Regions from separate parts of the Homo sapiens genome. Here regions 1 and 3 are each linked to region 2. Evidence: fine-mapped expression QTL. A gene starts in region 2. Each other region holds a variant in brackets. All regions are shown on one strand. Distances are between the middles of the regions.

What was found. PIP is the estimated chance that this variant, and not a neighbour inherited with it, causes the effect.
Region 1: its variant is fine-mapped to the expression of QSER1 in monocytes (Quach 2016, PIP 0.91).
Region 3: its variant is fine-mapped to the expression of QSER1 in whole blood (INTERVAL, PIP above 0.99). The same link has a PIP of 0.9 or more in T cells.

What each region holds. Positions count from the first base shown.
Region 1 is chr11:32,945,388-32,956,464 of GRCh38, reverse strand. QSER1 (glutamine and serine rich 1) reads right to left here. Exons shown (of 13, transcript NM_001076786.3): 5 at 2,286-2,608; 6 at 1,053-1,169; 7 at 344-477. It overlaps LOC105376615 (a long non-coding RNA gene), which reads left to right. Exons shown (of 4, transcript XR_931167.2): 4 at 11-127. Among named protein-coding and RNA genes, the nearest start is that of QSER1, 58 kb to the right of the region's middle. RefSeq lists a silencer at 9,357-9,507. The variant T/AT (reference allele first, on the strand shown) is at 4,627.
Region 2 is chr11:32,885,955-32,897,031 of GRCh38, reverse strand. It overlaps QSER1 (glutamine and serine rich 1), which reads right to left and starts at 4,221. Exons shown (of 13, transcript NM_001076786.3): 1 at 3,698-4,221. The coding sequence starts at 3,906. RefSeq lists silencers at 3,449-3,848, 3,929-4,548 and an enhancer at 5,296-5,870.
Region 3 is chr11:32,961,647-32,972,723 of GRCh38, reverse strand. QSER1 (glutamine and serine rich 1) reads right to left here. Exons shown (of 13, transcript NM_001076786.3): 9 at 6,287-6,424; 10 at 3,581-3,678. The region is part of intron 2 of LOC105376615 (a long non-coding RNA gene); the gene reads left to right. Among named protein-coding and RNA genes, the nearest start is that of DEPDC7, 49 kb to the left of the region's middle. The variant AACATATAACTAACAG/G (reference allele first, on the strand shown) is at 6,208.

The DNA.
Region 1 (11,077 bases), 59 kb before region 2:
CATTTTATAGATGAAAAAGGGAGCTTCAGGAAAGCTGTCTTCTCTAAGTCACATAAAGCTGGACTCAAACTTTTTGCCTCTACAATTTTTTTTCACAATACTGGGATGACACCAAAAGGACTTAGGGAAAAGAAAAGGGCACCCACCCACCACAGATAGCCATGAGCTTTACAGTGCCCATCTCATGCCTTCAAAAGAATCACTTATTTCATCAGGCACTGAAATTTTTTGACTTGTGTATAATAAAAAAAATCTATTTAATTGATATGCTCCTTTGTACATTGGTATCATCAATAATACACCTATATATATGCACAAATATATCACCTAAGAAAACAAATACCTGATAGTTTGTGAAGGTTTATTTCTTGGCTTTTTAGAACACACTCTGACATATTCCTTCTTGTTTGCATTTTCAATGAACTTCACATATATTCTTTTGTATTTACTCTTTGCATCTCCAAAATATCCAAGATACTGAGGAAGGAAACACTTTGAGTTACATAATTGAACAATCTAGATACAAATGCTACTTTGTTTGTTCAATTGACTATCCCATAGCCAACCTTCAAGTTTTCTAAAATGCAGCTCTGGCCAGGCTAATTTTACCCTCAAAAACTGATCCCAGGCTCATTATTGATTTCATATGTACAAGCAATCTCATTTGGCATATTCTTACTTCCAGCTACATTAAGTATGACAGAATAACTTCCATCAGTCTTCTGGTAAATCAGGATATTTGACTAGTAGAATAATCAATATAAAGGAGCCTCTGAGTCAATCTGAACTCTTCATAGGCTAACATTAATCCCTTTCCTTTATTAAAAAAAAAAGTTAAACAATAGTACAAGGTCATTTAATTTTAAATAGCTGATATTTAACAAATGACTTTATTTTTATATTAGACTATCAAAGAGCATCAATATTCTAGTTCAAATTATATGCTACTTTATATCAAAAATATTCAATATAAAATACTTCTATATTTAAATCATTGTTTTTCTCAGGACCACTGTCAAAATAAGGCTAATGTAAACATGCATTTTACTTACACTATTTGTAGCAGCAAATTCTCTTTGACCATCTCGAATTTCAGGAACAAATTTCTGTAATAAAGCTTTTTGTACTTTCCAAATAGCTGGAGGTTCTTTTCCTGTTTTTAAAGCCTCCTGTAATAACCAGAATTAATGATACTTACAAAACACAGCAACATATTTTAGATCTTAGAATATTAGAGATGAAAGGAATCTGAAAGGCCTACCCTAGCTCAACCTTTTATCTCACCTCTCTATCTGATATTCTGCAATAATTCTTATAAGCTGGTTAGGTTATTCAGTCTCTGCTTAAATTATTCCAGAAATAGGGAGTTCATTAGCACACAAAGTAGCCCATTACCCATTTGTGCAGCTAAAACTATTGGAAAGTTTTCTGCTAATGACACTGTCCTATGTTACATATGCAATTTTATAACTATGTATATATACATATCTTAAAAGACCATAAACAAATACATTAAAATATTAAAAGTAGTTAACTGTGAATAGTGAGAATACAGACACTTGAATGTTGGATTCTTCACTGCACTTTTTAACGTCATTCCCATGTTTTTTAAAAAGGCAAAAGTGGCTGTATGCAGTGGCTCATGCCACTGCATGAGGATTACATGCCTGTAATCCCAGCACTTTGGGAGGCCAAGATGGGAGGACTGCTTGAGGCCAAGAGTTTGAGACCAGCCTGGTCAACATAGCATGATCCCATCTCTATTTTAAAAAATACATAAAAAGGCAAAAAAGCAAAGCAAGCAAACAGAAACCCCAAAATATGTTATTTTAAACACAGCTACAACTTTCTTACATAAAATTATTACATTCTCTTCATGGTTATACAACTTGAAATTATGAAATTAAATCTAATTCTACTTTTACATGATAGTTCTCTGTTATTTTTGTTTAAACTTTTAAATTATATAAATAACGATTTTCTCCAAACTACTAATAATGAATTGGGAACCTTGAAAAAAGTCAACATTTTAAAACTACTATAATTACTAATACTGAAATGCAACTGACTACATTTGTACAGAAATACGTACAACTAAGTTAAGGTTAAAATTATCTTCAATGATATCTGACATCTACTCTTAATATTTTGATTTTATCAAACACTTATAATGCATAAAACTTCCCATAATTCAAAGTAGATGCATGCTATTGAAGTCATAATGAAGGCTATCGCAGGCACACTAACTAAACTATGACCTTTACACTGGTGAACACTGACATCACCTTAAAAGTCTCTATGTCTTCTATCTTTACCACAAATTCATCACGCTCTCTGTATTGGCCTTCTCCTCCGCTTTCTGTGTCCTCCTCATCTGTAAAACCTTCTATGGCAACAGTGTCCTGTCCTTTTGCAAACTGGTCTGAAGGAAGACCATCAAGTTCAATGGGCTTTGAGGATTCTGAAGAGCTTATATTTTCCAGAATATTTACTGCATATGAAGTAGAGTGGAGAGGTTCTTGCTTAACTGCACCCACAGTGGTTGAGGAAGTAGTAGCAGTACCAGTAGTATTGGCAGTTGGGCTAGTAGTTGCCACCTGTAGGGCTTCTGAAACAAAACCAAGCAAATGCAAATCAGTATTACAAATATTTAAACACTTGTTTTGTGTAAAACTCAAAACAGTTTAAAAAGAAAGACTTGATTATTTTGTAATCAAACTGGTTGAAACAAAACCACAGGAAGAAATTAGACAACAGATGTTAATTTCCAAGAATCAAAGATGTGAGAATTAAGTCTAGATGACAAGTAGACTGCAAACCTGCAACTATCTACCTATCCTCCCGCTGCCAATTCCATGTAAGTAGAGCAAAATTATTTTTAAAAGAAGAGGCTGGGTACAGTGGCTCACACCTGTAGTCCCAGCCCTATTAAAAAAATAAAAAATTAGCCGAGCATAGTGTTGTGTGCCTGTAGTCTCAGCTAATCAGGAGGATGAGATGCGAAAATTGCTTGGGCCCAGGAGTTCAAGGGTTACAGTGAGCTATGATAGTGCCACTGCACTCCAGCCTGGGTGACAGAACAAGACCCTACTTAAAAAAATAATAATAATAAAAATAAAGACATGAAAGTGATAGAAGATAAGGAAGGGTCGGCCAACCAAAACTGTGACTCTTCATAGAAGATGAAAAACCAAATACATGTGGGAAAAAAAAAAACCCAAAACATTCTGAAACAGCACTAGAAGCTATCAAAATTAAAATGATTATAAAGTAATACTATGAAAAACTGTATGCCAACAAATTAAATAACTTAAGATGAAATGGATAAATTCCTAGAAAGACACAAAATACTAAAAAAGATTGGGGCCATGCACGGTGGCTCACACCTGTAATCCCAGCACTTTGGGAGGCCAAGGCGGGCAGATCACGAGGTCAGGAGTTTGAGACCAGCCTGACCAACATGGTGAAACCCTGTCTCTACTAAAAATACAAAAATTAGCTGGGCGTGGTGGTGCGCGCCTTTAATCCCCGCTACTCAGGAGGGTGAGGCAGGAGAATAGCTTGAACCTGGGAGGCAGAGATTGCAGTGAGCCAAGACTGTGCCACTGCACTACAGCGTGGGCAAAAGAGACTCTGTCTCAAGGAAAAAAAAAAAAAAAAAGACTTGGGAAGAAATAGAAAATCTGAATACCCCAATACAAAGTAAAAAAAAAAAAAGTAATTTTAAAACATCCCACAAAGAAAAGCACAGGCCCATATGGCTTCACTGGATAATTCTATCAACAATTAAAGAAGATATCAATCTTTTATAAACTCCAAACAATAGGAGGAAACACTTCCCAACTCATTCTGTGAGGCCAGTATTATTCCAATACCAAAACCAGACAAAAACAGCATGAGAAAACTATAGACTAATATCCCTTAGTATATAAATACAAAAACCCACAATGAAATACTAGCAAATCCACCAACATACAAAAAGAATCATACAATATGACCACGTGGGATTTATCTTAGGAATGCAAAGTTAATTTAACACCTGAAAATCAATGTAATACACTGTGTTAATAGAAAACAGCATAGGAGCACAGGATCATTTCAATAGGTGAAGAAAAAGCATCTGACAAAATGTAATGCCCTTTTATGATAAAAACATTCAACAGCCTGGGAACTTCCCCAGCTTTACAGAGGACATTTAGAAAAAATCAGTAACTAACATCATACTTAGTGGTGAAAACTGTATATGCTTTCCTCCTAAGAAGGATATCTGAAGAAGCAAAGCTATATTTGCAGATGATATGATCTTGTATATAGAAAATCCCAAGGCCTGGGCGCAGTGGCTCACGCCTGTAATCCCAGCACTTTGGGAGGCTGAGGCGGGCGGATGACCTGAGATCAGGAGTTCGAGACCAGCCTGGCCAACATGGTGAAACCCCATCTCTACTAAAAATACAAAAAAATTAGCCAGGCATGGTGGTACACACCTGCAATCCCAGCAACTTGGGAGGCTGAGGCAGGAGAATTGCTTGAATCTGGGAGGCGGAGGTTGCAGTGAGCCACGATCTCACCACTGCACTCCATCCTGGGCAACAAGAGCGAAATTCCATCTCAAAAAAAAAAAAAAAA[T/AT]CCCAAGGAATATACTAAAAAACTATTAGAACTAAAAAATGAGTTCAGCAAGATTGCAGGGTACAAGACCAATATATAAAAATCACATGTATTTCTATACATTTGCAGTGAACAACCCAAAAAATAAAATTAAGAACACAATTCCATTTCTAATAGCATCAAAAGTAATATTTAGGAATAAATTTAACAAAAGAACTGCAAACTTACATTGTAAAAACTATAAAAACACTGTTCAAAGAAATCATAGAAGATCTGTATAACTGGAAAAACATCCCATGTTGATGGATGAGAAGACGCAACACTGTTAAGATGGCAGTGTTCCCCAAACTGACCTATGGAATCAACCCAATTCCTATAAAAATCTGAGCTTCATTTTTTACAAAAATTGACAAATTGTTCCTAAAATTCATATGGAAGTGAAAGGGACCCAGAATAGCCAAAATGATCTTGAAAAAAGAACAAAGTTGGCAGACTGACATTTCTCAATTTCAAAACTTACCATAAAGCTATAGAAATACAGACTGTGATACTGACACAGACATAGATACAAATCAATGGAATAGAATGAAAGTTCAGAAAGAAACTCCTATACTTATGAGCAAATGATTTTCAAAAAAGGTGCCAGAACCATTCAATAGAGAAAGAATAGTTAACCATCCTACTAGGATGATTATAATTAAAAATATAGACATTAACACATGTTAGCAAGAAAGTGGAATGAATGGAATCCTTATAGATCACTGATGAAAATGTAAAATGGTACAGCCACATTGGAAAATAGTTTGGCCATTCCTCTATTAACCATGCAGATATATGACTGAGGAATTCCACTTCTGGATGTGTACCCTAGAGATAATAAACATCCATACAAAAATCTGTAAATGAATGTTTACAGATTTATTCATGATAGCCAAAAACTCTATCAATGGATAACTGAATATACAAAATGTGGTATATCCATATTATTAGGGAATAAAAAGGAATCAGATACTGATACATGCTACAGCATAGATAAACCCTGAAAACATTATGCTAAATGAAAGAAGCCAGTTACAGAAGGTCACTTATTATAGGATTCCCTTTACATGAAACATCCCAAATAGGCAAATCTACAGAGAGAGAAAGATTTGTGGTTGCCTATAGCTGGGTGTGGGTATGGGAATGGACTCCTTAATGGATACAGGGTTTCTCTTTGAATGATACAAATGCTGCACAAGTCTATGAACCACTGAACTGTACACTTTAAATGGGTGGATGTTATTGTATATGAATTATAATTCAATAAAACTATTAAAAAATACTTCAAATACCACAGCTGATAGAGGAACTTTGGGCTAAGGAACAAATATAAATAACATGTAAAATTCCAGTGGTAAGTCTGAATAATACTGATGAACTAAAATAATCACATATACAACAATAAGTAAATAAAAATGGGAAAGCCAGGCCAGGCACAGTGGTTCATGCCTGTAATCCCAGCACTTTGGGAGGCCTGGGTGGGCAGATCACTTAAGGTCAGGAGTTCAAGACCAGCCTGGCCAGCATGGTAAAACCCCGTGTCCACTAAAATACAAAAATTAGCCAGGTGTGATGGCAGGGGTCTGTAATCTCAGCTACTCGGGAGGCTGAGGCAGGAGAATCGCTTGAACCTGGGAGGCGGAGGTTGCAGTGAGCCTAGATTGCAACACTGCACTCCAGTCTGGGTGACAGAGCAAGACTCCCTCTCAAAAAAAGAAAAAAAAAGGGAAGGCCAGTGATCCCCTTAATTGTACTAAGCTGTAGGCAGAAGGGGTGTTTGACCATAGGCTAAAATGCAAAAGCTGTACTCTGAAGAGAGTGAATTCTACTTGCCTAGAGTGGTGGAGGAGCTGAGAGAAAACCAAAGCAGGGCCTGAGGCAAATCCAGACTTCCAACACAGAAAAAGTGGAAATGCAGACTGGCAGGGGAAATCCATGAACTAAAGTGCTTGACAAATAAAGACCTCCTTGTTGCTACCAGCCAGCCTACCTGTTCTTGTCCCAAATTAAAGCTATTCTCATATATTTATACATTTCCCACTCAAGGGAAAAGACCTGTTGAGGAAATACAGATGAATATTCTAATCACGTTAGGAGCCCATACTATGTTATTTTATCCTAACATATTTCTATAATGCTATAGTTACATTGTCATACTTTTCTGTCACAAAAATATGTATGTAAATGGAAACTGATTTGTCTTGTAACTGAAGGCTCAAAATGTTAAACATTTCTAACATTATACAATTGCATAGTTGATCCAAATTATACTATCTTTTCACATTTTGACAAGTATTAAATGTAAAACTCATGCTTCTGTTGGACATGGCACTTAAAAATTATTCATACATGGATACATGGACAGTACTTATTGAGATAGATTTTACAACCAATTTTATTTGTCCTTCACTTTTATTGATATAAAAACTTAGAAACCATGTTCATATAAATAATGGGTAAATTAAGGAATAAAAGTGACTTTGTTATAGCAATGTCACTGACTTCTACAAATACTTTCTAAGTTATATGTCAAAACAAGTCACATAGTTATCTGTGAACAAAAACAGAGATGCTGCAGCAGACTCTGAGAAAAGGAAATACTAAAGGTATTTTAGTATTTAGTCTGCTTTAGTCAGATAATCCCAAGGAGAAGCTATGAGATACAAGAATGAATGAAGGGTAAACTGGGAAATATATAAGTAAATGTAAACAAATGACTATTTAAAAGACTATTAATGATGATAGAATTAAATATGTAGTAACAATAACATTTATGTCAGGAGGGGATTAAATGGAGCTCCAGTGTTAAAAAATCTGTATTATCCAGAAAAAGGAAGATATTGACAGATTTGGAGAAGCTAAAAGTGCATGTTGTAATTTCTATTGTAACCAGGAAAAGAAAAGAAATATTTCACCAAAATAATCAGGGAGTGGGCACCTAGATAAAGGTATGAATCAAGCAAGATGGACCACATGATTATTGAAATGGATGATGCCCCCAGAATTGGGTTTCATTATGCCAATCTCTGTACTTTTGTATATGTTTGAAAATTTCTATGAAAAAAGCAAAATTTTTTTAAAAAAAGAATGTATAACTTCTAGTAGAGGGAAAGTTCATCAATACTTTATTTATATGCCCTTTGTAGGAAGTTTTAAAACAAACCAAAGAATAGTTTTGTTTTGTTTTTTTAAGAGATAGCATCTAGCTCTGTCACCCAGGCTGGAGTGCAATGGTGTGATCCCAGCTCACTGCCCCCTCAAACTCCTGGGCTCACCCGATACTCCTGCCTCAGGCTCCACATTAGCTAGGACGACAGGCACATGCCAACATGCCCACCTAACTGTTTTTTTGTTTTTTGTAGAGATAGGCTCTCACTATGTTTCCCCAGCTAAAAAGTATAGTCTTTAGAGATGCATACATAGATGGTAAAATTATATTAAGTAAGGAAGTGATTACCATCCAAGTCAGTTAGTGATTTGCTCTAGAGGTTAAGAGTGAGTTTAATTTAATACTCAATTAATTTCGATATTTTCTTGCTTTCCAGTGAATGACATTTAACACTATAAATTTGCTTCTTCACATCACACTCTGGCCACATCCTATTAGTTTCAGTATACAGTGCTCCACTGTCCATTCCAATTAGTTTGTCATTTCAGTTTTGGTTTCCTTTTTAAGCCAAGAGTTATTTGGAAGGGTGAGTTTTTCTTTGTTCCTTTCTTTGTTCTTTCTAGAAACGGCTGCACTGTACCCAGGGAATACTGCTTGAATAATGTCTGCATTTTCAAATCTGTGGAAGTTTTGTTTTGTATTTTTCTTTATGCATGTTTGATTTTCACATGTGGGTTGTATTTCGCAAGAAAAAATGTTCCAAAAGAAAACATAGATATGGAAAAATACTAAAAAAATGCTAATAACAACATTAGTATGACAGTATTAAAAACAGAAATCATTAAGTGGGAAAAAGAGATTTTATTATGATAAAAGGAAATTTAACTGTAGTAAAATTTTATGCACTGAATTACATGGGTTCAAAATATCAAGTAAACAGTATTAGAAAAATAATATAACATAATGGAAAACTTTAACACACCTTTCTCAGGAATCAACAGATCAAGCAATCTAAAAACAAATAAGGGTAGAGAGGAGTTTTAAAACTTTTTATTATTATAAAATTTTAGACTACACAAAAGTAGAGAATACAAACCCTACTATAACCCAGCTGTAACAAGCACAAACATTTTGGTTCATCTGTTTAATCTATCCATCACTCCCTTTTATATTTGCTGGGCTATTTTAAGCCAAATTCCATACATGTCATTTATCTCCAAAATATACACACATATAAACATTTTCTTAAATAACCTAATATCATTTATTAAATAAAAAAGATATAAAGGATTTGAACACTATTAATGAAATCTATTAGTACTTAGTATTTATAAAAAGTGGAATATCTATAAAAATGGACCATTTACCAAACTACTAACAAAATTTCCATAAATTTCAAAATGTGAACATATTCCCTGAACACAATACAAAAGAGTCAAATTAATAATTAAAACAGGGGGAGGAGCCAAGATGGCCGAATAGGAACAGCTCCGGTCTACAGCTCCCAGCCTGAGCGACGCAGAAGACGGGTGATTTCTGCATTTCCATCTGAGGTACCGGGTTCATCTCACTAGGGAGTGCCAGACAGTGGGTGCAGGTCAGTGGGTGCACGCACCGTGCGCGAGCCAAAGCAGGGTGAGGCATTGCCTCACTCGGGAAGCGCAAGGGGTCAGGGAGTTCCCTTTCCTAATCAAAGAAAGGGGTGACGGACGGCACCTGGAAAATCAGGTCACTCCCACCCGAATACTGCACTTTTCTGACGGGCTTAAAAAACGGCGCACCACGAGATTATATCCCGCACCTGGCTTGGAGGGTCCTACCCCACGGAGTCTCGCTGATTGCTAGCACAGCAGTCTGAGATCAAACTGCAAGGTGGCAGCGAGGCTGGGGTAGGGGCGCCCACCATTGCCCAGGCTTGCTTAGGTAAACAAAGCAGCCGGGAAGCTTGAACTGGGTGGAGCCCACCACAGCTCAAGGAGGCCTGCCTGCCTCTGTAGGCTCCACCTCTGGGGGCAGGGTACAGACAAACAAAAAGACAGCAGTAACCTCTGCAGACTTAAATGTCCCTGTCTGACAGCTTTGAAGAGAGCAGTGGTTCTCCCAGTACGCAGCTGGAGATCTGAGAACGGGCAGACTGCCTCCTAAAGTGGGTCACTGAACCCCGAGCAGCCTAACTGGGAGGCACCCTCCAGCAGGGGCACCCTGACACCTCACACTGCAGGGTACTCCAACAGACCTGCAGCTGAGGGTCCTGTCTGTTAGAAGGAAAACTAACAAACAGAAAGGACATCCACACCAAAAACCCATCTATACATCACCATCATCAAAGACCAAAAGTAGATAAAACCACAAAGATGGGGAAAAAGCAGAACAGAAAAACTGGAAACTCTAAAAATCAGAGCGTCTCTCCTCCTCCAAAGGAACGCTGCTCCTCACCAGTAAGGGAACAAAGCTGGACAGAGAATGACTTTGACGAGCTGAGAGAAGAAGGCTTCAGACGATCAAATTACTCTGAGCTACGGGAGGACATTCAAACCAAAGGCAAAGAAGTTGAAAACTTTGAAGAAAATTTAGAAGAATGTATAACTAGAATAACCAATACAGAGAAGTGCTTAAAGGAGCTGACGGAGCTGAAAACCAAGGCTCGAGAACTACGTGAAGAATGCAGAAGCCTCAGGAGCCGATGCGATCAACTGGAAGAAAGGGTATCAGCAATGGAAGATGAAATGAATGAAATGAAGCGAGAAGGAAAGTTTAGAGAAAAAAGAATAAAAAGAAACGAGCAAAGCCTCCAAGAAATATGGGACTATGTGAAAAGACCAAATCTACGTCTGATTGGTGTACCTGAAAGTGATGGGGAGAATGGAACCAAGTTGGAAAACACTCTGCAGGGTATTATCCAGGAGAATTTCCCCAATCTAGCAAGGCAGGCCAACGTTCAGATTCAGGAAATACAGAGAACGCCACAAAGATACTCCTCGAGAAGAGCAACTCCAAGACACATAATTGTCAGATTCACCAAAGTTGAAATGAAGGAAAAAATGTTAAGGGCAGCCAGAGAGAAAGGTCGGGTTACCCTCAAAGGGAAGCCCATCAGACTAACAGCGGATCTCTCGGCAGAAACTCTACAGGCCAGAAGAGAGTGGGGGCCAATATTCAACATTCTTAAAGAAAAGAATTTTCAACCCAGAATTTCATACCCAGCCAAACTAAGCTTCATAAGTGAAGGAGAAATAAAATACTTTACAGACAAGCAAATGCTGAGAGCTTTTGTCACCACCAGGCCTGCCCTAAAAGAGCTCCTGAAGGAAGCGCTAAACATGG
Region 2 (11,077 bases):
TATTACTTACAACACGGTTTCCATGGGAAAAAACTTTCTGAACTCTAACAGTGGAAGTTTGTCTGAAATAACCTTTCATTAACTTGAGATTGTTCTTACGCCTTACAAATTATGATCTATAAGGCCTTTTCCCAAAAACCTTGAGGAAAACTCTAGATTTGAAATGTATCAAACAAATGTCCATCATATAGAAACTGACAGGTTTTAGAAGAGCTAATCATTACTTTGGTTTTTCAGAGGAGTATTTATCATACTCATTATACCTCATACTAAAAAAAAGTATGCATTAGGAATTCTAAAAACTGGTGCCAAAAGTTATTTCAAGTTAGAAAGGCAAAAAACAGGCCAGGCACGGTGGCTCACACCTGTAATCCCAGCACTTTGGGAGGCCAAAATGGGCGGATCACCTGAGGTCAGGAGTTCAAGACCAGCCTGGCCAATGTAGTGAAACCCCATCTCTACTAAAAATACAAAAATTACCAGCCTGGCCAATGCGGTGAAGCCCCATCTCTACTAAAAATACAAAAATTAGCCAGGTGTGGTTAGCTACTCAGGAGGCTGAGGCAGGAGAACTGCTTGAACCCGTGAGGCAGAGGGTGCAGAGAGCTGAGATCACGCCGTTGCACTCCAGCCTGGGCAACAAGAGCGAAACTCCATCGCAAAAAATAAAATAAAATAAAATAAATAAACCTATTTAAATACAAAATATTTCCATTCCCTTACTTTCTGGTGCATATTCAAATACGAACACATCGATTATCACCATAAAACAGCCTGCCTCTTCCTGTTGTGACCAAGATATAAGTATCAAGTACAGAATGCGGCAATGGATCTGCAGACTCTTGATGACCTTCTTATTTCCCAAGCTATGCAAAGGTATTTACAACATCCAAAACTGCACCCCAAAAGGTATTTCCAACTGCGTGGTGTTCAGCAAAGGACATGTTCATTCATTTAGTTCCTAAAACGAACTGAAATTAGCATAAATAAATGAAGATTTATATGGCCAGTCCTTATCCCTGTACTTTCCAAGTACCTAGCAAGTACTCTGAGAAATATTCAAAAATCTTTCTATAAGCCCCATTTAAGGTATAATGCTGGAGTTTCCCACTCTATTTTTCCACTGTTAGTACAATAAAACTACCTAATAACTAACAGAGCTGTTGTATTCAAAAAAGTATTGTTTCAAACTCATGAAAAGCTGTTTATCATGTACCTTCCCATCAACTGATGAAAATGATGTATTTCAAGACCAAGAAGGCATAAAGTAGGATGTTAGATCCCTGTCGGCAACAACTGAATGTCATTACCATCTGTCAGCTTCTGAATAGGTTACAGGAAACAAGGTGACAGACAGGCTAATTCTTTATGGATAAGTATCCATATTACATCATCACAACTAGTACTCATTTGCACCTTCACAAGAAACTGCCACAAAGGGGAACAAAAACATTCAACTGATATGTGCATTATGAAAAAGCTTTTTAAAATGGTATAAAAATATAAATAAGCTTCTGAAGTGTAGAATATTTAGACTTACAAGGCATATTTCAGATTTGCCATTTTTGATATAACTGAAATCAAAGGGAATATTTGCACAGTTTGAGGAATAAAATGAGGTATAATTCAGAAGTGTAACTCTGTACAGATGGCCTGATCCCAATACAAGATGTTAACAAAGCAGGCTGGCGGGGGAGGGGGGTAAACCTGCATTTTCTATGCTGTATTTTAGCTGATTCCCCCCACCGCTTATTTTTTAAAAAAGCAGGGGGAGAGGGCATGAGGGGTAATATTTAAGATTCAATAACTTCTAGTAAACAGAAAATAAATCTCCTTTAGATTATGTGTGCCAAGTGAATCTACTTACTGTTTTCAAGTGTGTTTGGGAAGTCATTTCGTGTTACTCTGATAAATAACATTTGGAAAATATGACAAGTAGATTTTAGTTTCTTGCCTCAGAAGTATTCTACTAAAAGAAGTAACTAGGTAGTATTTCAGTTCCATTTACCTAATAAATATTTTTCATTTAAAAGATAAAAAATGCGGCACAAATACCTATCATGCTGTTCAATGATGAGAAAGTAATTTTCATTTGTAAATTATCCTAGTCAATGCAAAAAGCTACTTGAAAAAGATAGTCAAATTACCATCAGCAAGAAATAATGGGTGAAGTGCCAAACGTCTTTCATGAAACTCCTTAAAATGGCTTACTTGTATGTAATACAAAATTATGGCTATTTCTGAAAGGTTTCAGCATTTAATTACTTAGCTCCAAATTGGCACATCACATTATTTTTGTTAACTCCCAAGTCTTGAAAACAAAGGGCCTAAAATTTTCTGAGAAAGCTTATATTCCTATTCTTGAAGCAAATTTTTCTCATTCTTTCACAATCGTCCCAATGGACAATCTAAGACAAAGACCAGCTACCCTTCACACTTATTTGCTCAATCATGAACGTAGAACTTTCGTAAAAACAAAGAAGATAACCTGGAACACGGTAATGTATAAACTTAAAACAAAAGTTCACTTCTGTCGTGAAAAATAATGAAGAAATCTGATGAGATCATAAAGCCACGAAGCTTCCTGTTGGTAGCTGAGGATGAAGTCATTAGCAACCCAGGATTCCCTGGTCCATGTAATCAGAAGCTGCACCTACCAGATTCTGTATTGTTCGGGAGAGGTGGCTTTAAAACACCCCGCTCACCAATTCTCCAAACCAGACCACGCCTTCCAGTTATCATTCAAATGGGACCGTTTCACAGTGTGGCACTACTACACATTTCCCGCGAGCTTAAATATCAAGTAGGAGTCAAAATTTTAGATTCCCTTGGTCATGCAAGATGAACTCTTGAACCCCACGCTACATAATGCACCCGGACCTTAAAGGCCGAGATGGAGAAGCATGCTTTGGTTCTTCAACCTTTACGGCCTTCACTACCCCCACCCCAACCCCCGCCCCATTTCTTCCCAACTCTCAGTCACCCCGAGGCATAGAAGGCAAAGAAAGATTCCTTACTTCCTGCTGTTGTTAAAAGGGGAGGAAACCTAAGAGCAACTTTGAACGCGTGGAAGAAAAATCGCCTAAATCTTGGCCACCAGCGCAAACATATGTCACCCGGCCCTGGAGCCGCGTTCGCGCCCTGCCGGGCCCCCTCTTCTGCCCTGCGCCCCGGGGATTCTCCCGTAGCCCAGCCCTCCCGGGCCCCCCAGTGTCTCCGGGACGCGGTTCCGCGACTCTTCCTCTCCCGCCTCCGCAACCCTCACACGCCGGAGTCCCCAAGACCGCATTGTCGGCCACCCAGGTTCCAATACAATGGATCGCCACTGCCCCAAACTCTCCGGCGCCCCCTTCGGACCCCCGGCGCCAATCCTGGGTCTCACAGATCCCGAGTTCAGCCACGAGCCCAAACTTCACCATGTGAGAGCCCAGGACCCAAGAGGTGACGGAGCCCCACGACTCCCGCCCAGCTATTCCTTCACCCGCCGTCCCCAGGCGCGAATCCTGCACCGGGCGCCCCCACCTACCCGCGACCACCCCGTAGGAGTCATCAGCCGCCTCCCCCGAGCTGGCCGAGGGCGAGCGGAGGGCTCCCCGCCCGGCCCAGACCTCTGGGCGGCGCTGCAACCGAGCGAAGGCCCCAAACGCATCCCCGGCCTTTCCTGGTCCACCGCGACCCCGCCGCCCACCCTCCCTACCTGGCCTTGAGGCTGGGGCTGCTGCCGCTACTGCAGCTGCCACTGCTGCAGCTGCTGCTGGCGGCGGCGGCGGCGGCTCGGGGTTCGTACGCCCAGGCTGGGGCGGGGGGCTGCGCAGCGGCGCTGGCGGGGACGGGGGCGGCGGGGGGCGCGGGCGGCGGCGGCGGCGGCGGCTCGGTGAAGCCCGAGGTCGCGTAGTTCCTGTCCATCGTGGGGGTGGCGTAGGGAGGGCGGGCAGCAGCGGGGGATCCTCCAGGGCTCCGTGTGACGGGGGCGGGCAGGGAGAGGGGGCGGGGGAGGAAGAGGGGGCGGCGGCGGTGGAGGGAGCTGCCCCCTCACATGGCCCCGGCGAGCAGGCGGGAGAAGGGCGCGCTGGCGAGTCTGGGCCGCAAAGACCCGGGCCGCGGCGGGCGGCGAGGCCCCAGCTGGGCGTCAGGGAAGCGGAGGCACCCGCGGCCGGGACTCGCGGCGACGGCGGCGGCGGCGGCGGCCGCTGCGCCCCATGTTGGTGGATTTCCCAGGATGCACCTCCCGCCCCCCTCCGCCCCGCGGCCTTGCCCCGCCTCCCCTCTGAGCCCCGCGCTTGCCGCTCGCGGGGCTGGCGGGCGGCCGCGAGGCCTCCGCCACCGCAGGACGCTTCGCGAGGGACAGTTGGGGCCGAGAAGGCGCGGGTCCTGCGGGGCCCGGCCGACTTCAGGGACTCCGAGGGGCGCCCGCCAGCCGGAGCCCGCGAACCGCAGACTTCCCGCCTTCCGCAGCCCGGAAGGGAGCTGTCCGCACTCGCCGCGGCCCGCGTGGGAAGGGACCGCGCCTGGCTATCGCCCCGCGCGGGGGAGGGGAAGTGGAGTGGAACCCAGCGTAGGGCGCTGCTCAGGGGTAGCCGGGTCAACGCTTTGCTTGGAGCTCACTATTTGACCCTTCGGGTTATTTTGAGGGACTCCAGTACTCAGTTCCCTGATCGCGATTTCTTTCTCTGCGCCCCAATCCAGAAACAGCTGAGCGAGCTCTTTTGCAGTTCCGCTTACTCCCTCCCCAAAGCTTGCTGGGCTAGAGGACCCTTTTCCTGCTGTTAGGGGAGATTTATATTCAAAGAGATTCAAATTCAAACGTATTATTTTCCAATCCTCGCTGAAAGGGCCTTTCCCAAGGGCTCTTATTAACTGTCCCCACCCCCACCTTGGGGATTTTTCTCGCTCTGGGTTTCAGAATCTTCTATCCCAAGATAGATAACCACCTCTTCATTGATTAATCCAACTACCATCTGGATGACTTTAATTACAATAAATTTAAACTCACCATGCACTCTGATGTTGAGGGGTTTTGTTTGAGACTTGGAACTTCAGCAGGACTCTCTCCCCAAACATTTCCTATCTGATCTCCAAGCTGCTTGGTGTGCGGTAATTTAATGACTATTTGCGGTTCTTCTGTTGCATAGCAGAGTTGTATTTCTTGTAATAACTCACAAGTATTGAAACTAGGGAATCGTACAAATCATCGTTTGGCCCTTGGGCCATAAATTTAAAGGTTAAAATAACAGTAAAATTTCTATTTAATGACCACCTCCTTTTAAAAATCAATATTGGTTTAACACCTATTATGTGCTTAGCACAGAAATCTATCCCTCAAGATAAGCATAACATAAAGGTTTAAGCAAATCAGCCGTAGTGAAAGACCTAATAAACTTGATACGCTATCTCTGATGACCATTGAAAAAGTTTAAACTTTGGTAATAATCTGGTGTTGGATCTGCTATGCCTTGCGAGATTAATTTTGTTCTGGAAGATCCTGTTTTCCTCCTGGCGCCTACATCCTTTTGTTCCTATTCATTCCTTTTTGCAAGTCTTTCTGCACCTGTGATGCTTGGAGCCTGGTCCCCGGGTGGGGAAGCAAGGAAGTGAGTAGTCGTTATTTACACATGAATTCAAACGTGTAGGCACAGCGACTTTGCCAATTTTATGTTAATTACAAAATGCATTTACTGAGGATATCTTTGAAAAGTGGTTTTTCTTTGAAAAGGAATTTGCGAACTAATCTGAGTTCATGCAGAGAAGTAACGTAAATCTTCATTACATTTATTTTTCTTCCTGCAAACTGGAAATGTGGGATCTAAATTAAAAAGTTTTCACAACTAGCTATTATATTTATAAGTACTTTTGTGAGCGCTAAAGTTTTGTCTCTATGAAAAGTATAGGAAATGGAGTGGCATGCTATAAATGTTTTATGACACTTAGTTTGAGATACCCACAACTGGCACTCAGAGTGAGTTACGCAGGCAATACCAAACAAGTGGCAATAAAACCTTTATAGTCCCTCACACCATTATGTAGTTTGTTTATGTCACATAAATCAGGGAAAGATATTAAGGGAAAATTCTAGTGAGTATTTTTAGTAATATTACTCTGTCACCATATGTTCCTTTGCCATTTAAATGAAATTTCCTTAGTTCACTCTAAATCAGTACAATTATATTTATTTTCAAATGTTACATGTCTACAAATAACATCATTACATTTTTTATCAATACTATTTTTAATTGACAAATCATAATTGCATACATTTATGGGGTACAATGTGATGCTTTGATATATGTAAATAAATCTTTTAAAAATTTTGTACACTTGATGATACTATCTGAAGAATGTCTTCTTCCCTACTGAAAATATACTTCCAGCTCTGTGAACGTTTCGGGATCTCTCAAATGATTCGTAACCAAGCTGCTTCAAGTCTGATCTAGGTAATGTCAAACTCTAGAATGAGCATTGTTGGTCCCGTGTTTTTGTTTGTTCGTTTTTTCAGACAGTCTCGCTCTGTCGCCCAGGCTTGAGTGCAGTGGGGTGATCTCGTCTCACTGCAACCTCCGCCTCCCGGATTCAAGCGATTCTCCTGCCTCAGCCTCCTGAGTAGCTGGGAATACAGGCGCATGCCACCACGCCCAGCTAATTTTTTTGTATTTTTAGTAGAGACGGGTTTCACCATTTTGGCCAGGCTAGTCTCGAACTCTTGACCTCAGATGATCCGCCTGCCTCAGCCTCCCAAAGTTCTGGGATTACAGGCGTGAGCCACCGCGACCTGTGAAATACGTATTGATTTTCTAATGGGATGGGAGTTAGGGTGGAAAATGTGGGGAGATTGTTCATGGGCATGTTCTAAGGCATGACTAACTCTAGACAATAAACTCAGAAGGAAGTGGGAGATGGAGGTGAGGAAGAAGGAAAGAGTTTTTTTTGTTTTTTTTCAGACAGGGTCTCGCTATGGTGTCCAAGGCTGGTCTTGAGCTCCTGGCCTCAAGCAATCCTCCCACCTCAGCCTTCCAAAGTGCTGGAAGATTCCTTCTTAAGTGTAGGATTTACTCCAATTCATCTTAAAACCAAACTGCCTTTGATTTAATCAATTTTCAAATCTTGCCCCGATTTTAGAATTGAGATAGAGTGTTTTGGTTTTTCTTTTTTGGGGGGGAAAGGAAAGGAATATGTAAATGACTAATTGGAACTTCTGAATGGGCATTTTTTTTTCTTAGATAGCGTCTTGCTCTGTCGCCCAGGCTGGAGTGCAGTGGCGCGATTTCGGCTCACTGCAAGCTCTGCCTCCTGGGTTTTACGCCATTCTCCTGCCTAAGCCTCCCGAGTAGCTGGGACTACAGGTGCCCGCCACCACGCCCAGCTAATTTTTTGTATTTTTAGTAGAGACGAGGTTTCGTCGTGTTAGCCAGGATGGTCTCGATCTCCTGACCTCGTGATATGCCCACCTCAGCCTCCCAAAGTGCTGGGATTACAGGCATGAGCCACCGCATCCAGCCTGAATGGGCATTTTTAAAGTAGCTTACATATTTATTCATTCAATAGATATGTATTTAGAGCCTAATACAGTGCCAAGCATAATACTAAATGCTGTGAATACGAGGGTAAATTTAATACAACGCCTGTCTTTATGGAACCTGTAATTTATGAGGAAAAGAGGCAGACACACAACTAATTGTAATGCAATAGGATAGTGTTAAATATAATAGAAATTGGAATAAAGCACCAGAGGACAATTGAAAAGGAAGTAATTGATTTTGCCTCTCAAAAAAAAAAAAAAAAGAAAATAAGTATTTCAACTGGTAGAAAGATTGTAGTTCTATTGAGTACATAGTTCATTGCCTTCCTTTTGTAGTTGAGGAAGCTGAGGCCTGGTATTGAGTGACTTGCTTTAAGATGATGGAGGGAATCAGTTGGGGTGAGACCCAGGAAACCCCATCTTCACTGAGGTGGCCTTGTTCATTAGCTTGTTGGGAAATGCAGAATTTGGGGTTGCCTAACTAGAAATGTAGTCAGTAAGTCCACACATTCCTATGTTATAAATAGACCAACCATCAAGAAGAAAGATCCAAGAAGGTCAAGTTTGTGGTTTCACTGAGAATACAAGGAATATGTGTGTGAGAAGTGATTTGAACAGGGAAAGAAGATATGGTTTTAAATTTTTCCCTTCTCTTCTGGCATTGAGGGAAACTATAAGCCCTGTCTTTGCCAGAGCAGCCCTGGTTTCCATCTCTTAGGTCAACATCATAAATTAAATTAAAACATCAGAAAGGAAATAAAAATTAGCCAGGCATGGTGGTGCACCTGTAGTCCTGAGAGGTGACAGCGTGCTGGCAGCCCTCGCTTGCTCTCGGCGCCTCCTAGGCCTTGGCGCCCACTCTGGCCACACTTGAGGAGCCCTTCAGCCCACTGCTGCACTGTGGGAGCCCCTTTCCGGGCTGGCCAAGGCCAGAGCCGGCTCCCTCAGCTTGAGGGGAGGTGTGGAGGGAGAGGCGGGGGCAGGAACCGGGACTGTCCGGGGCGCTTGCGGGCCAGTGCCTGTTCTGGGTAGGCGTGGGCTCGGCGGGCCCCCCACTCGGAGCTGCCAGCCAGCCCCGCCAGCCCTGGGCAGTGAGGGGCTTAGCACCTGGGCCAGCAGCTGCTGTGCTCGATTTCTTGCCGGGCCTTAGCTGCCTCCCCCGGGGGGCAGGGCTCGGGACCTGCAGCCTGCTATGCCTGAGTCTTACCCCCTGCTGTGGGCTCCTGTGGGGCGGAGCCTCCCCGATGAGCGCCGCCCCGCTGCTCCATGGCACCCAGTCCCATCGGAGGCCCAAGGGCTGAGGAGTGTGGAGCACTGCGTGGGAGTGGCAGCCAGCTCCACCTGCTGCCTGGTGCGGGATCCACTGGGTGAAACCAGCTGGGCTCCTGAGTCTGGTGGGGACTTGGAGAACCTTTACGTCTAGCTTAGGGATTGTAAATACACCAATGGGCACTCTGTATCTAGCTCATCTAGTGGGGACGTGGAGAACTTTTGTGTCTAGCTCAGGGATTGTAAATGCACCAATCAGCACCCTGTCAAAACGGACCAATCAGCTCTCTGTAAAGTGGACCAATCGGCTCTCTGTAAAATGGACCAATCAGCAGGATATGGGTGGGGCCAGATAAGAGAATAAAAGCAGGCTGCCCGAGCCAACAGTGGCAACCTGCTGGCATCCGTTTCCACGGTGTGGAAGCTGTGTTCTTTCGTTCCTTGCAACAAATCTTGCTGCTGGTCACTTTTTGGGTCCACACTGCCTTTATCAGCTGTAACACTCTCCGTGAAGGTCTAGCTTCACTCCTGAAGCCAGGGAGACCACGAACCTACGGGGAGGAACGAAGAACTCCAGACGCGCCGCCTTAAGAGTTGTAACATTCACCGCAAAGGTCTGCAGCTTCACTCCTGAAGCCATCCAGACCACGAACCCACCAGAAGGAAGAAACTCCGGACACCCTCCGTTTAAGAACTGTAACACTCACTGCGAGGGTCTGTGGCTTCGTTCTTGAAGTCAGTGAGACCAAGAACCCGCCAATTCCGGACACAGTCCTAGCTACTCCAAAGGCTAAGGCTGGAGGATCACTTGAACCCAGAATTTCGAGGTTACAGTAAGGAATGATCATGTCACTATGCTCCAGGCTGGGCAACAGAGCAAGACTCTGTTTCTAAAGAAAAATTAAAATAAAAAAAGTTAGAAGGAAACTAAGTCCCACTATAATTTTCTCTGTCTCTGAGGCTTGACCCTATCAATCATCTTTTGACTCTGCTCATTGTTGTCTGCCATACCCCTCCAGGGAGACAGCAATGGAATCAGGAAAGCTGCTGTTTAACCCTGCTTCTCTGGAAGCTGCAGCCTCACTAGGGGGTGTCCCTGAAAGAGCTTCAAGAAACATACTTGATCATCAATTTTGTGCGGAGAGGTAGTTTTCTGAGCTACGGATATGGAGGGACTTTGGGGCACTGATGAATGGTTTCGTTGATCAAGGGCCTGCAGTAAGCAAGGTTGAATGATTAGAAACCAGGAGGTCTGGGAAAGGAGTACAATTTAAGTATGAACTGGAAAGACAAGGCTGTGGCCTTGTCATGAAGTCTTTCACTGAGAGGACATTTTATCTCCCTAAATAGATTACAGGAGATTTAAACCTGTAGGTGAGAGTGATTCTCATAAGAATAACTGATACATATTGACAATGTATGTCTTAGGTCCTGTGCTAAGGGCTTTATGTGGAATTGTCACAATCCTCCTAAGATCCTTAAGATGTGGATATTTTTTATTATTAATCCGTTTTACAGGAAATTGAAGCTTAGTGAAATTAAGTAACTTTCCCAACATTGTACAAGCTAATATAAGACAGTGATGCAGGCAGGGCCTGGTGGCTCACGCGTGTAGTCCCAGCACTTGGGGAGGCCCAGGTGGGCGGATTGATTGAGCCCATGAGTTCGAGACCAGCCAAGGCAACATGGCAAAACCTGTCTCTACAAAAAATACAACAAGTAGCTGGGTGTGGTGGCGTGTGCCTGTATACCAGCTACTTGGGAGGCTGCAGCAGAAGGATTACCTGAGCCTGGGAGGCAGAGGTTACAGTGAGCTGTGATGTTGCCATTGCACTCTAGCCTGGGCAAGAGTGAGACTGTCTCCAAACAAAAAAACAAACAAAAAACCACAATGATGCAAGTGGAGCTTCAAATCAGCAATTTGACTCCAAACCAAATAGGCTTGGTTAAAGGAGTTACTGCCAGATTTCTCCTCTAAAGAGTTACTACATTTTACTTTGTAATCAATAAGTATTTCGTGGATACTTGAATATTGTGTAAATTCCTGAGGCCGGTGCAGTGGCTCACTCCTGTAACCTCAGCACTTTGGGAGGCCGAGGCGGGCGGATCACCTGAGGTCAGGAGTTCGAGACCACCCCGGCCAACATAGTGAAACCCCATGTCTACTAAAAATACAAAAATTAGCCGGGCATAGTGGCGGGCACCTGTAATCCCAGCTACTCAGGAGGCTGAAGCAGGAGAATTGCTTGAACCCGGGAGGCGGAGGTTGCAGTGAGCTAAGATCACGCCATTGCA
Region 3 (11,077 bases), 76 kb before region 2:
TGGCTCATGCCTGTAATCCCAGCACTTTGGGAGGCCAAGGTGGGCAAATTACTTGAGGCCAGGAGTTCGAGACCAGCCTGACCAACATGGCAAAACCTTGTCTCTACTAAAAATACAAAAATTAGCTGGGTGAGGTGGTGCACACCTGTAATCCCAACTACTCAGGAGGCTGAGGTAAGAGAATCGCTTGAACTCGGGAGGCAGAGGTTGTACTGAGCTAATATCATGCCACTGCACTCCAGTCTGGGTGACAGAGAGAGACTCTATCTCTAAATAAATAAATAAATAAATAAATAAATAAATAAATAAATAAATAAGCCACTGGCCTATTTATGCCCTTACCTACTTGGCAAATCATTCTGCCTGACTGAAAAGCTACAAACAATAACTGAATGATACTTGTGGCAACATTTAACTAGTTTGATTATGACTTTATAAAAATTAAATCGAGCTCCTACCATCATTTATTATTTTGACACTAAAAATGTTGAAGTCCTCCTATTATATTTATGATTCAGAATGCAGTCCAAATTCGATAAGCGCAAGTGTTTTATAAACAGTTACAACCTTTAAAGCCACTCTTCTCCAAACTCATCTATTGTTTCCAAGCACCTGGTATTGGGGCCCTGAAAACAGTACTGTTTTGTTTTTTTTTTTTTTTGAGATGGAGTCTTGCTCTGTCATCCAGGCTAGAGTGCAGTGGCGTGATCTCGGCTCACTGCAAGCTCTGCCTCCTGGGTTCACGCCATTCTCCTGCCTCAGCCTCCCGAGTAGCTGGGACTACAGGCGCCTGACACCACGCCCGGCTAATTTTTTGTATTTTTAGTAGAGATGGGGTTTCTCTGTGTTAGCCAGGATGGTCTCGATCTCCTGACCTCATGATCCGCCCACCTCGGCCTCCCAAAGTGCTGGGATTTCAGGCGTGAGCCACCGCGCCAGTCCCGAAAACGGTACCTTTTTAAAAACAGGCAACCTAAATTTTTCTTAGTATAAGTGTAGAAGGGCACTAAATTTCATTTGATAGAAACAATAACACTTTTGGCATTTTCTACCACAGTGAGCTACCATCACGTTCGAGCTTCGTTCCTTTCTCAGATTATTTGTGCACTTATCATGTACTCTGGTGTTTTCTATTTAAAACATGCACCTTGACAATTTTTGGATCCAGAATTATTATTTGCAACAAATAGAATTTAAAGTCTAAAGATTCTAAATTTGGAAACAACACACACTAAGTCAGTGGAGATGAAAGAAGAAAATTTAAATCTTTCCAATGACCACAAAATGCTTAAGATGATCTGAAGTACACAGATTTCAGAAAAAGGCAGAACATCATTACCTTGAAAAAGCTTCAGGACTCCTAACATCACCAAGATCAACATAGGAAAGCACACTAATTATTTCTAAAGAACAGAAAAATCTTTCTTTCTCTACTATTTGTAATATTTTACTTCAGATCAGTCTAACTCTTAATATTATGTAATTTTGCTTTGAAATGCAAATTGCTAAGGCTGGGCATGGATTACACCTGTAATCCCAGCACTTTGGGAGGCAGAGGCAGGCAGATCACTTGAAGTCAGGAGTTCAAGACCAGCCTGGCCAACATGGTGAAATCCTGTCTCTACTAAAAATACAAAAATTAGCCAGGCCATCCCAGCCACTCCAGAGACTGAGGCAGGAGAGGAGGAGGTTGCAGTGGGCGGAGATCGCGCCACTGCACTTCAGCCTAGGAGACAGAGCGAGAGTCTGTCTCAAAAAAAAAAAAAAAAAAAAAAAAGCAAATTGCTTTATATGACAATTATCAAAATTAATAACTAATAACAGAATTAGAAATCTTGTTAGAGAACTGGTTTGACATTTCAACAGTGATTAGCCAAACCTGGTAATTTTTAAGATTTAGTAAATCTTTAGAAAACACCTATCTAAAAATGTTCCCTTGTCTCCACAAAATATAGTATTTCACAAGAGAATATTTCATTTATTTAAAGGCAGCAGTTAAGCAGAAAACACTGGGCTAGGGCTGGGTGCCGTGGCTCATGCCTATTAATCCCAGCACTTTGGGAGGCGGAAGTAGGCGGATCACTTGAAGTCAGGAGTTCGAGACCAGCCTGACCAACATGGTGAAACCCTGTCTCTACTGAAAACACAAAAATTAGCCAGATGTGGTGGTGCATGCTTGTGGACCCAGCTACTTGGGAGGCTGAGGCAGGAGAATCTCTTGAACTCAGGAGGTGGAGATGGCAGTGGGCTGAGATCACACCACTAGACTCCAGCCTCGGCGAAAGAACAAGACTCCATCTCAAAAACAAAAACGAACAAACAAAAACTGGACTAGGAGTCAGGAGACCAAATTCTTAGTACTGGATTTCTTACTAGCTTCTAAATTTTTTTTCTTCCTGCGAATACATGGCAGTGAAGAATACATGACTACTATGATAGTTTTGTGTCATTTAATTTTGAATGCAATCTAATGGCCTCAGTTTTCACCTAATTGAAATGAAGTCAATACTCACTTTTACATGGAGTTCACATAAAACAGGGATGTGAACAAGTTATACAAATGTATAATATTGTTACCATCAATTAAAAAATGTTCCCTAAGGTAGATATAACCAAATGATTCTTGATGTGATATTATACTTTGAATAAGAAAGGCTACGGAGTAATCATTCTGTGATTCTCTCCCATGTGCACGTTAATAAATTTGCATGCCTTTTCTCCAACTGAAATAAAAAGCTCGGCCGGGTGCAGTGGCTCACGCCTGTAATCCCAACACTTTGGGAGGCCAAGGTGGGCGGATCATCTGAGGTCAGGAGTTCGAGACCAGACTGGCCAACATGGTAAAATCCTGTCTCTACTAAAAATACCAAAATTAGCCAGGTGTGGTGGTGGGCACCTGTAGTCCCAGCTACTCAGGAGGCTGAGGCACAAGAACTGCTTGAACTCAGGAGGCAGAGGTTGCAGCGAGCCAAGGTTGTGCCACTGCAATGTAGCCTGGATGACAGAGCTAGACTCTGTCTCAAAAAAAAAAAAAAAAGAAAAGAAAAGAAAAAAAGCTAGAAATTTTTAAACTACCAAGTTAGCTTCTATGAAAAATTATCTGAGTTGAGTTTAGATTAGCTTTTTCTATATTTCTGATAACACCAAAACCAACTTATATTGCCAAGATATATTAACATATAGAATTATATACATTTCCTACCCTTATAAAAATCAGCGTTTCCTCTGATATTGAATAAATGAGGCAAGTACGGTGAATTTTGATAACTGTGCTAAGGAAAAGCTAATTTTAATTACAGACAAAATGTAAAAATTTTGAAAAGCGTTAAAAGAACATTTGGAAATTATTTTATAGAAGATATAATAGATAACTATAAATGCCTAAAAAATAAATTTAAGTGGAGAAAAGCAAGTGATTAACACTAAGCAGACAAACTAAATGGACTTACAATGAATAAAAGCCAAATTTTCATTAGGTGAAAAATGTTGTAAGTGAATAATTTTCATAAATTTCCTTCCTATTATACTTAAGACTATGACTGCCATTGAGTTTTGCTAATAAGTCATCAGAAGGAAATACCTTGAATGATTGATCCAAATGAAGATTCAAAAGAAGTCTCTTTCGGTTATCATTTAGCATGCCATCTATTTTTTTCATATGAGGTAAAAGTAGCTCATCTGAAACAACATTATAATTTAACAGGATAAACTATCAATAAATATTTTTGAAAAAAATCCAACTTTTTCTCAAAACATTTATATATTAAAATACACTAAATTCATTGGCATATGTAAAATACTGATTGCAAAAAAATTGGACATGAAGCTTTCTGAACAAAGGTTAACTTGAAAAGTAGGTTTATAGTAGCAAGTGAGAAAGAGGCAGCTCAGTATGATGATGGGATGAGCACTACATGAGGATCCAAAGTTCTAAGTTTTAGCTGAACTACAACTGCTGGATAAACTAGAACTGGATTTTAACTGAATAGAACTGATATGTGGCAGCTATGTGACGAATAGGCAAGCTGCCTAATTCCTCCAGACCTCATTTACCCTCTGAACAATCTGAACAATTACAAAATACAAACTGATCTAACAAAACACTGAGTATGACCAAGGGATATTAAGTCACTTTAACTTGAAGCAAAGAAAAAGTAGGGGAAGAAAAATGATCAAAACCCAGTACCAAAAATATGAATCAAAATAGTTATTTTAGAAAAAGAGGGGAGAGTAAAATTATGACAAAGATTCCTATTCAAAGCTTTTGGCTTTCAGTGTCACCACTCTGAACTTTAAGCTCCATTAAGAAAAGTACTTTTAGAATATAATTAGTTTTGGTGTAGCATTAAACATTTTAGATTATTAGATTCTTTCTTAATTTACCAGCATAGTACTTTATTATATTTTATAATACTAACTGCCTCTAATAACCTTCTGAAAAAAAACAACAACCCAGAATCCAGGTCACAAGTTTCACAGCTAAGTAAAATGATTGTTTACATAGTCTTTCTATTAGTGATTCAATCTGTTCTAATACTGTATTTACATTCTACAAAAGTAAGTTTTAAACATTTGTGATTTAAAAATAATCTTAAAAAATTTTCTCCCCTTAGAGAAAAATCAGAAAACACTGATAAGCAATTTTTAAAAATCTTTCAAAATACAACTATACAGAAATGACTACTACAAAGAGAAGCATATTTTATGATGCAAGGAATATAACATTTAATAGCAAAAATGCTGACCTGGGATTAGCTGAGTTTTAATCATGGTTCTTCAACCTCTAACCTGTTCTTTAACTTTAATCTCTTTTGAACTTTAGTTTACAAAATAAATGTTTCAGACTAGGTAATATCTAAAGTCCCTTCCAGCTCCTAATTACTTGAAAATGACTGATATACAGGTTACTGTCTCTGATTAGGTGGTAAGAAAAGCACTAGACCAGAAATTAGAAGACTTTAATTTTAATCCTTTCTCTGCCAGTTTCAAGTTTGTGGGCCCTTAAGCAAGTCACTTAACCTCTCTGAACCTGTCTTAATCCACAAAATGGCTGTCTAAGTTGTTTTAAGGTTAAATTAGAATATATGTCTAAGTATGTGAACATAATAAAACAGTATATAGTCATGCACTGCATAATGACATTTTTGACAATGACAGACCACATATACAATGGTGGTTCCATAAGACTATAATGCCATATTCTTACTGTACCTTTTATTTTCTTCTTTAAAAAAAACTTTTTAAAAATTTCAATAGCTTTAGGGGTACAGGTGGTTTGGGTTACATGGATGAGCTGTATAGTGGTGAAGTCTGGGATTTTAGTGCATCCATCACCCAAGTAGTGTACATTGTACCCCATAAGTAGTTTTTCATCCCTTACCCCTTTCTCACCCTCTCCCCTTCTGAGTCTCCAATGTCCATTATACCACGCTGCCTTTGTGTACCTATAGCTTAGCTCCCACTTATAAGTGAGAACATGTGATATTTGGTTCTCCATTCCTGAGTTACTTCAGTTAGAATAATGACCTCCAGTTCCACCCAAGTTGCTGCAAAAGACATTATTTTGCTCTTTTTTATGGCTGAATAGTATTCACTATATTTTCTTTATTCACTCATCGGCTGATGGGCACTTTCCATATCTTTACAGTTGTGAACTGTGCTGCAATAAACACATGTGCAGGTGTCTCTTGGGTATTATTTATTTTCCTTTATGTAGATACTCAGTACTGGGACTGCTGGTGAGAATGTAAATTAGTGCAACTGCTATGGAAAACAGTATGGAGATTTCTCAAATAACTAAAAGGAATAATATTAATTGGTATAACCCAGTGCATTTACTGGTTTAATACTAATTTTAACTGATTAGAAAATAATTGCTATGATGTATCTTTTACAAAAGATACAAGTATATGATTTTAATCTTTATGCCACTTTTATCTGGTTCATCTTTCCAATTATTGGAAAATAAAATATACTGACATACAGACCTTTCATGTAATACTAACACTTAGTAAACTATTTATGAGGATGATTAGATTCTAGAATTGGAAGAAACTGGTTAGAAGCTATACAATTTTCCCATGAGTAGAAAGCAATAAAAGTTCAAATATTCAGAGAATGCATGAAAAGATATGACCATTTTATGGAATTAAGATGCTATATATTTAACTGACAATTTATAGGTATATATTACACAAGTCACATATA[AACATATAACTAACAG/G]ACAAGATTTCTTTTTTTAATTCCAGGAAGTACTACCAAGGAAGTACTACTTAGAAGACTGTACCATTGCTCTTCTCTAAGGCTTGCATTGTGTCAGGGTCCAAGGCAATGCTAACAAGCAATTCCATGTAGCTCTTAAAGGTTTCCTTCATTGCTCTTGTGTTCAAAAAGCGAGTGACAAAGGGAGCGGGAGGTTCAAATTCTGGGAGGGAGAAAGGGTTAAATATTAAATTTTCCTTCCTGACAATTTTAAAAACACTTTTCTCTATAACGAGACCCTAGAAGCAGATTGCAGATACAATTTCTTCAAATTCAAGACTTTCTCACCTTACCTTTAAAAGGTCTGAGGTTCTCAAAGCTGGTTTGCACATGACAATGACTGAAGAGCTTTGTTAACAATAGAACAAAAACCAGATTGCTGGACTTCCTAAAACAGAATCTTTGGTAGTGGTGGTGGTCGTGGTAGGGTGATGAAGCTTAAGTATTATGCTCTTAAAAAGCTTCCTAGGTGATTCGTGTGTGTGTGTGTGTGTGTGTGTGTGTGTGTGTGTGTGTGTTTTGAGACAGAGTTTCACTCTTGTTGCCCAGGCTGGAGTACAATGGCGCCATCTTGGCTCACTGCAACCTCCGCCTCCTAGGTTCAAGCAATTCTCCTGCCTCAACCTCCCGAGTAGCTGGGATTATAGGTACACACCACCATGCCTGGCTAATTTTTTTAGTAGAGAGGGGGTTTCACCATGTTGGCCAGGCTGGTCTTGAACTCCTGACCTCAGGTGATCTGCCTGCCTCAGCCTACCAAAGTGTTGGGATTACAGGCGTGAGCCACCACGCTTGGCCCTTCCTAGGTGATTCTGAAGCCCAACACCAGAAAAAGTAGACTGGGTAAGAAACTATTTGTCTTCTGCTGGATCCCACCACAGACATCTGCTGCTAGGTGGTGCTACTGTAGTCTTGATGGTTTCTCTGTTTAGTAGTAAAGAAATTGTATGACATCCAATGTATGAGTAATACATAGATTTCCTTTTTATTCCTAGACATAAATTACTATAAAATTCTTGCCTAGGATGTATTAAAAATGTTTAAAGTATGGCAGGTGCAGTGGCACGTGCCTGTAATCCCAACACTTTGGGAGGCCAAGGTGGGAGGACTGCTTGAGCCCAGGAGTTTGAGACCAGCTTGGGCAACATAGTGGGACATCGTTTCAATTAAAAAAAATATAAATTAGCCACGTGTGTGGTGGCATGTACCACTATTCCCAGCTACTCAAGAGGCTGAGGCGGGAGGATTGCTTGAGTCCCGGAGGTTGAGACTGCAGAGAACTGTGACTGCGCCACTGCACTCAAGCATGGGAAACAGAGTAAAGACCCTGTCTCATAAAGAAAAAGAAAAAAAGAAAAAAATCATTTTAATGTAAACACAGCCTGTGCACAGAGAAAATTTCATTCAAATCCAATGGAAAGAACTATGACATTAACTTGTTGGGTGCAGTGGTGCACACCTGTAGTCCCAGCTACTTGGGAGGCTGAGGTGGGAGGATTGTTTGAGCCTGGGAGTTCAAGACCAGCCTGGTCAATATAGCAAGACTCCATCTAAAAAAAAAAAGTTTGTTTCAATTTTGACTTTTTGTATTCAAATATATAATCAAGTCACACCCTTAAATAGCAGTTTTTAAAATATTTTTAATGTTGTGGGTATATAGTGTGCGTTTATGTGTGTGTATGTGTGTGTGTGTGTGTGTGTGTGTGTGTGTGTGTGTGTGTGTATATATATATATATATATATATGGTGTTTTTTTTTTTTCTTAGAGATAGGGTTTCACTATGTTGCCCAGGCTGGTCTTGAACTCTCAGCCTCAAGTGATCCTCCTGTCTCAGCCTCTGAAAGTGCTGAGATTAGCTGTAAGCCACCGTGCCTGGCCTATAGTAGGTGTATGTATTTTAAATAGCAGCTGTTAAAGTAACTGTACCCCAGGGGGGACCCCAAGACCCTTTTGGTGGTCTCTGATATCAAAACTGTTTTCATGATAATATTAAGATACTATGTACTTTCTTCACTGCATTGCCATTTGCAAAACTACTACTGGGTAAAATTGATGGTGCCTTACCCCACGAATCAAGGCAATGACAACAAACTGTACTAACAGTAATATACTTTGCATGACTTTGTCATGTCACTCACTACCATGTATTTGGAGGGGGAAAAAGTTTCACTTAGGAATAGTCCTAGGGGCTGGGCATGGTGGCTCACACCTATAATACCAGCACTTTGGGAGGCCAAAGTGGGAAGATTGCTTGAGGTCAGGAGTTCAAGACCAGCCCAGGCAATATAGTGAGATCCTGTCTCTACAAAAAAAAATTTTAAGTTAGCTAGGTGTGGTGGCATGCGCCTGTAGTACTAGCTGCTTGGGGGCCTGAAGTAGGAGGACTGTTTGAGCCCAGGAGTTCAAGGCTGCAGTGAGCTAAAAAGGTGCCACTCTACTCCTGCTGGTGATAGAATAAGACCCCATCTCTTAATTAACAACCAGAACAGTCTTAGGGCCAGGTGAGGTGACTCATGCCTATAATCCCAGCACTCTGGAAGGCTGAAGCAGGACAATGGCTTGAGGCCAGGAGTTTAAAACTAGCTTGGGCAACATAGTAAGACCCAGTCTCTACAAAAAACTTTAAAATTAGCTGGGCATGGTGGTGCATACCTGTAGTCAGTCCTAGCTACTTGGGGGACCGAGGTGAGAAGATTGCTTGTGCCAGAAGTTTGAGGTTACAGTGAATTATGATTACACCATGCACTCCAGCCTGGGTGACAGAGTGAGACCTCTCTCTAAATATACAAAATTTAAAAAGAGCCTGGGCAAGGCTGGATGCGGTGGCTCATGCACGTAATCCCAGCATTTTGGGAGGCCGAGGCGGGTGGATCACGAAGTCAAGCATTCAAGACCAACCTGGCCAACATAGTGAAACCCCATCTCTACTAAAAATACAAAAAAGTAGCCAGGCATGATGGCGGGCGCCTGTAATCCCAGCTACTCGGGAGGCTGAGGCAGGAGAATCGCTTGAACCTGGGAGGCGGTGCAGTGAGCCGAGATCGCGCCACTGCACTCCAGCCTGGACGATAGTGCGAGACTCCGTCTCAAACAAACAAACAAACAGAGCCTGGGCAACATGGAAAAACCTTGTCTCTACTAAAAAATACAAAAAAATTAGCGCCTGTAGTCCCAGATACCCAGGAGGCTGAGGTGAGAGGATCACATGAGCCTGGGATATTGAGGTTGCAGTGAGCCTTGTTTGTACCACTGCACTCCAGCCTGGGTGACAGAGTGAGACCTTGTCTCAAAAAAAGATAAAACAAAATAAAAATTAATAGTCCTTGACGAAGAAGTAATTATTAATTTTATGAAATTTCTATTCTTGAATAGATGTCTTTTTAATATTCTGTGTGATGAAATAGCAGGTACACATAAAGCACTTCTGCATAAATATAATGGGTATGACCAGGAGGAGCACCCATACAGTTGTGTGAGTTACAAGATAAACTAGCCATTCTTTCCCCCAAGAAAACAAGATTTTTATTTGAAAGAATGACTGACAGATACACTATGCCTATCCAGACTTGGGTATTTGGCAGACCTTAATTTATTCTTAAAAATAAATTAAGAGAATCTGCTCATTCAAGGAAAACAACTGATGGTATTTGTTGCCAATGATAAAATTTGAGATTTCAAGTGAAAATTAGAGTTCTGGACATCTTCTATCCCCACTGTGAGTCTGAGCTTCCCAATTTGTAAAGACTTCATTAATGAGATCATTCATAGAATTGATGAGTGCTATTTTTTGATAGTGTAAAATGAAATATCTGACCTTAAGAGCTAGAACCATAAAACTCTTAGAAGAAAATGTAGGAGTAAATATGTCCTTGGATTTGGCAATGGATTCTATGTGAACAAAAGCTGAGTAACAAAAGAAAAAATAAGTAAATTGGGCTTCATCCAAATTTAAAACTTTTGTGCATCAAAGGATATTATCAAGAAAGTGAAAAAGACAACCTACAAAATGGGAGGAAACATTTTCAAATTATGTATCTGATTAAGGGTTTAATATCCAGAATATATTAAAAAACTCCTACAACTTAACAACAAAAAGACAAATAACCCAGTTTAAAATGGGCAAAGGATCTGAATAGACATTTCTCCAAAGAAGATATACAAATGGCCAATAAGGACATAGAAAAAATGCTCAGGACATGGAAAAAATGCTCAACATCATTAGTCACTAGAAAAATTCAAACTGAAACCACAATGAGATACCACTTCACACTTGCTAGGATGACTTTAAAAAGACGCACACACAAACAGAAAATAACAAGTGTTAGCAAAGGATGTGGAAAAATTGGAACCGTCATGCTTTCCTGGTGGGAATATAAAATGGTGTAACCATGTGGAAAACAGTTTGATGGTTCCTCTAAAGGCTAAACATAGGATTATTATGTGACAATAGTAACAATTCTGCTTCAGGTCTATGCCTCCAAAATTGAAAATAGGAACTTAGATACTTGTATGCCAATGTTCATTACACCAATTATTCAGTTAGCCAAAAGGAGGAAATAACCCAAATACCATCAATAAAATGTGGTGTAAACATACAATGGAATATTACTTAGCCATAAAAAGGAATGAAGTTATGATATATGCTTTTACATGGATGAACCTAGAAAACATTTTGCTAAGTGAAAGAAGCCAGACACAGAAGGAAAAATATTGTATAATTCCACCTATATGAGATATTTAGAATGGGCAAAATCACAAATACAAAAAATAGGTTAGAGGTTACCAGTAGCTGGAGGAAAAACAGATTAGAGGTTA